Regions from separate parts of the Homo sapiens genome. Here region 2 is linked to region 1. A link means that fine-mapping ties the variant in region 1 to the expression of a gene that starts in the linked region. Tissue or cell type: blood mononuclear cells. Region 1 holds a variant in brackets; the other region holds the start of a gene. All regions are shown on one strand. Distances are between the middles of the regions.

The links. PIP is the estimated chance that this variant, and not a neighbour inherited with it, causes the effect.
Region 2: it holds the start of RPP40, and the variant in region 1 is fine-mapped to the expression of RPP40 in blood mononuclear cells (TOPMed, PIP 0.97).

The regions. Positions count from the first base shown.
Region 1 is chr6:5,031,181-5,033,933 of GRCh38, reverse strand. The region is part of intron 2 of LYRM4-AS1 (LYRM4 antisense RNA 1); the gene reads right to left. It also overlaps a transcript of LYRM4 not described here. Among named protein-coding and RNA genes, the nearest start is that of RPP40, 29 kb to the right of the region's middle. The variant A/G (reference allele first, on the strand shown) is at 1,347.
Region 2 is chr6:5,002,616-5,005,368 of GRCh38, reverse strand. It overlaps RPP40 (ribonuclease P/MRP subunit p40), which reads left to right and starts at 1,332. Exons shown (of 8, transcript NM_006638.4): 1 at 1,332-1,489. The coding sequence starts at 1,367. LYRM4-AS1 (LYRM4 antisense RNA 1) reads right to left here and starts at 1,553. Exons shown (of 4, transcript NR_126015.1): 1 at 1,410-1,553. RefSeq lists silencers at 1,222-1,351, 1,482-1,731.

The sequences.
Region 1 (2,753 bases):
CGGGAACAGATGCCTTGGACTACTCAGATTTTTTCCCTGCTCTGTACAAGTCTGTGAATCACTGTGAAGCCACAAGTATTGATTTGGTTTACAAACACATTTTAGTGAAGAGGTGAATTTGCAGGTATGGAATCTAGAAATAATGAGATCGGACTGTAAGGCTGGAGACGAAGATGGAGAGGCTGCTGCCAAGTGACAGGCTGGCTCTTGTCCCAGAAGCTGTGGACTGCCACTGGAGTGTTTCAAGCAAGGGAGTGGCTTGATCTGTGTTGTAGGAACAGCACCTTTTCTCAACTTAAAAGTGTGGCTTGAAGAGAGGAAGACGGGAGACTGGTTAGGAGATGGATGTATCCAGGTGAGGATGAGGGTGGGTGAACGGAGCCAGGGATAGAGGTCCTCAGGGGAGCTGACCTGAGACCCCTGTGAGTCTCGGGTCCTGGCAATGGGGCGGCGGTGAGTGGTGAGGGGGAGGCATTGAGGACAGCGCCCGGGGTCCCCGGCTGGGGCACATGCTGGGGTGTAGGGCAGTGGTCAAGGGCCCTAGCCTTGCAGTCAGACACCCCTGGCGGGCTGTGTGGCTTAGACATGCTCCTCCACTTCCCTAAGCCTAGTTGTTTCATGTCTAGCATAAAGATTCCGTGTGGCAGGAAGAACACACCCCCGGGAGTGATTCTGAGATTGAAATGAGTGCTGGTGCTTTTCACCTAAACAAGGAAAACGGGGAGAGAAGCAGTATGTGGGGTGGGAGGGAGAAGAGTCTGTCTGGGCGTGGGGATTTGGACGTGCCTCTGGACACCCATGGACAAATATCCTGAGGCCATCTGATGTTTTCCGGGGGCCACGGGAGTGGGGGAGGGGAAGGTGGGGCGGAGACACAGACTTGGGCATTACCAGCAGGCAGGGGGCTGCTACCGCCATGAAGAGTGGGCAGTGCCAGGATCAGAGGGCCGGGGTAAAGCCTGCGGAATTCCCACATTTCAGAAGAGGCTGGGAAGGAGGTCAAGGAAGAGCAGCAGGAGGAGGAGAAAGCAGGAGGGTGTGGAGGGACGGGAGGCGGGGAGGAGGAATTCCAGGAGGGAGTGGCCGGGGTGACTGTTCTGAAAGCATGGACTGGAAGCCACAGCACATTTGGGCTGCAAGGAACCCGAGAGATCTTCTAGTCTAATCCTCTTTCAGTCTCCATCCCCGTCCGGATGAAGACAGCGAGATCCAAAAGTAAAGTCAGTTGTACTGTGACTTCCTAGCAGGATACCCTAACTCCTAATTCATAATAAAACTACAGACATTCTCAATTCAAAATTCTTCCTATTCAGTCACACTGGACTTTCTCCCAATGTGACAAAATT[A/G]TTGAGATTTTATTGACTTACTGAACAACTGTGGTCTTTGCCATGTACTAAGATACTGTGTAGTCAAACTGCGCCTCTGAAATCTATTTTTATTGTACATTTAACAAATTTTGCTGTAAACAATAAGTTTAAAAACAATAGTCATAACTCATTAAACTGTATCTTTTAATTTTAATATGTTATTATACCTCAATGAAACTCAGTTTTAAAAAACAGTGAATAAAAAGTTGAGCTATTAAAACTAAAAAGTAATTATTTGCTAGTTTGTATACACAGACCCAAGAAATAGAAATATAGGAATATTTGGAACTTGCTCCTTCTTACAGCCTTGAGGGAACCGCTTATCCCTTATTACGCCTTGGTTTCCCTCAATGAAACTAGAAAATATTACCTTGCAAGACGCTCATAGTTAATTAATACGTATGAAGCTCTTGAATCTAAATATTAAATACTTGATGATATTGTCTGGTAAATATTATCTAACTGCATTTATAAATACTAGCATTTTTACAGCCTAGTGGTAATTACAAAGTATAGCCCATTTAAAATGAATACAAATATGTGCATATATATTTTTCCTGTGAAAGTAGGAAAAGAAAGTTGAAATTATGCAAGAACAAAGTAGAAAAATATGCCTCTCATATAAGATTGAGTGTTTCCATTGATCAATATAATTTTTAAAATGTTGTGATGATTCTTTTTTTCACTTAATTGGCTATGTCATTTGCACTCTACCTAAGTGAGATATTAATAAATTGTATATGATGTAAATAACAGGAAACAAGAAGAACTGCTGGCCTTATTCATAGTTAATAAAGAGAACCAGATGATGAAATTGTCTGAAAATAAGCCATTTTGTTTATTAAAAAGTTACTTCTGCTCCAGGGATCCAAGTAATAGAGCTTTGTGTTTTCAGAGGGAATGTTGCCATAAATCAGGGTATCACAACCTCAGCACTACCGAGGTTTGGGGCAGCTGGGTAATTCCGTTGTGGGGGCTGTCCTGTGGGCTGTGGGAGGTTGAGCAGCACCCCTGGCCTCCACCCACTAGATGCCACTAGCACCCCCTCCCTCATTTGTGACAACCAAATGTCCCCAGGGGGCAAAATTGCCCTCAGTTGAGAAACACTCCTATAAATATCATGTCCATGCTGGGGTGGGTGTACTTTTACATGTACGGGGGACTGGCCCGTAGGTTTGGCGGTAAGTCCTGGGCTTCCAAATTGGCATTTCCCAGTAGCTGGGCTGATGTGACAGCCTTCGGTTGCTCGGGCCTCCAGGCAGAAAGTGGAGGTGCAACAGGGGCTGTTTGCACGCTGCCTTGGCAGAGTTGGGGTGACAGGCACATCTCATGTGTTCACAGACACTGCCAGGCCTTCTCAGAGCTCATGACTTGCCTCCCCTTTCC
Region 2 (2,753 bases), 29 kb after region 1:
GTTTTAATTTTTTTTTTTGAGATGGGGTCTTACTATATTGTCCAGGGTGGTCGTGAACTTCTGAGTTCAAGTGATCCTCCCACCTCAGCCTCCCAAAGTGCTGGGACTACAGGCGTGAGCCACTGTGCTCGGCCAGATTACTGATGTTTATAATGGCAGATGACTTTCCAGCCTTGTCTTAGTTTTATTTTTATTTTTGGAGATGGGGTCTCACTATATTGCCCAGGCTGGTCTTGAACTCCTAAGCTCAAGTGATCCTCCCACCTCAGCCTCCCAAAGTGCTGGGATTACAGGCATGACCCACTGTGACTGGCTTAGTTTTAAATTCTTAATTATTTACCTTGTAAACTACTTAATTCCATTTCTTCCACATCTCATAGAAAAACTGATGTTCCAGGAAGATGTATCACCAATATTCTGCTGTTTTGTATCCTGCCAGTGCAGAATTGGGGCTGTGCCTCTCTAGTTTGAGAAGCATGTAGTAACATACTTGATTTTGCCCTGATCAGTAACGTACCGCATGCTGGGAGCCGCAGTCTCTTAACCGCTCCAAGCCCGTGACAGAAAAACGAAATGGAAAAATGACTTAGGAGAATTATCACTATTAACCCCCAGAAACAACACATTATTAAAAGCGGTTCTGAAGGGCTATTTAAAAGGGAACTCAATAGTAGTTTCAAAGGAGTCCTATTGTAAGGCAAAAATTGTGCTTTACCTTCCCGCACAACCTTCCCTAATGTTTTGGGAAGGACTGATACAAACTTTTAGTCCTGTTGGCCTGTGTTAATAATGGCCAAGAGGTCCCCAATGGGTAACAGAGTCCTGTGAACCAAACAGTGTGAGAAGTCAGAAAGCAGCTGGGTGTGGCCCCCAAAGCAGCTTAGGGGGTTACTTAACTGTGCGGCTACATTTCTTGACCATATACTAAAGGAACTGGGCCTTTCCATGCGATGTTTTCCTTTTATAACGGTGGCAGGAAGCGGTCCCTCTGAGGGGCCTGACCGAGGTATGCGCCGGCGCCAGGCTGGGGTCCAAGGGGCGCTCCGAGGCGGGGCCCACAGAGAGGGTTTAGGGCAATTCCAAGGGATGGCGGGGACGGAGGAAAAGTGGCGTTGAAAAGGCAAGAGCCAGGTTCCCAGCCACTGGGACAGTGAATTTACAGCTTCAGACATCCACCAAAGAGCGGCTGCGTGGGCTCCTAAGAAGTCTAAGAACTGCTCAGAAATCCAGCGCCGCCATCCCCACTCCACCGCCGCCAGGGGCGCACAGCAGCGGGTATGCGGCCGGAGGGAAGGGGCGGGGCGGGAGGAAGGGGCGGGGCGTGCCCCGCCAGCGGAGGCCGGGAGGACCAGGAACCCAGGAGAGCATGGCCACGCTGCGCCGGCTTCGGGAGGCGCCGCGGCACTTACTGGTTTGCGAGAAATCCAACTTCGGCAACCACAAGTCGCGCCACCGGCATCTTGTGCAGACGCACTACTATAACTACAGGGTGAGTCCGGCTGTCCTCGGCTTTTCGGGCCGTGCTCAGTCCCCGCGTGCGAGAGAGGTTTGGGGAGAGTGCTAGGCTTCGCGGGGCGGGGCCGCCGGCGGTACGCGGAGGGGCGGGGCCCTCGCCCGGCTTGCTGGGAGTTGTAGTCTCTTAACTGCTCTAAGCCAGTGGCTTGCAGGGCTACAGGACTACAACTCCCAGGATGCGCCGGGCGTGGGGGCGGTACCCAGTCTGGAGGGAGCTGTTGTCAGGGGCGTTCTGGCTGCTCACTCGTGTCAACCCGCCGAACTGGGAGTGAGTCCAGGGAGGGATTCGAGGTTCAGGGCCGGGACCAGGGAGTTAGGCTGTGGGGCAGCCACGTGCACCTCGCTTTTTCCCCAAATCAGGGCGGGTCTCGCGCCTCCTCCCCACCACTGCCTCCTCCCCAGCTTGAATCCCTCTCCCACCTGCGTACCTGTGGATCTCACCAGAGCATCCTGCCTAGGCTCGGCCCAGGAAGCGACTGATTTTCCTTTTTTTTTTTTTTTTTTTTTTAGACGGAGTTTCGCTCTGTCGCCCAGGCTGGAGTGCAGTGGCGCGATCTCGGCTCACTGCAGGCTCCGCCTCCCGGGTTCACGCCATTCTCCTGCCTCAGCCTCCCGTGTAGCTGGGTCTACAGGCGCGCGCCACCACGCCCGGCTAATTTTTGTATTTTTAGTAGAGACGAGGTTTCACCGTGTTAGCCAGGATGGTCTCGATCTCCTGACCTCGTGATCCGCCCGTCTCGGCCTCCCAAAGTGCTGGGATTACAGGCGTGAGCCACCGCGCCCGGCCGAAGCGACTGATTTTCTAAATTGGTTGTTGGAACTAATTTGATATCTGAGAGACTTCAAGAAACTAACCTTATCATGGGGGATTAAACATTTTACACTTTAAATGGATCAGCTTAATAACTCAGGTTTGACTGAGCAGTGTTTCAGAGATGTTAAGTGGTGACCTGATCAGTCAGAACAGGCTGGTGTTTGAGCCTTGGGACAGTGATGACTTTTACAATGTGGCAACATTTGAAGCCTGCCCTGTTTTTAACACCTATTTTGGATGTCAAGCTCATCACAGCAGTCAGGGATGTATACTTTAACTCGCCTGTTGCATTTTTCTGTCTCGAAAATGAAAACATACAGGAGCACCATTGCTTGCACATAGATTCTTAGTAATTGGATGTCCATAAATTAATTCCTTATGCCCCGACAGATAGTTTGTTTCATTCCAGGATAACACCAGGGTA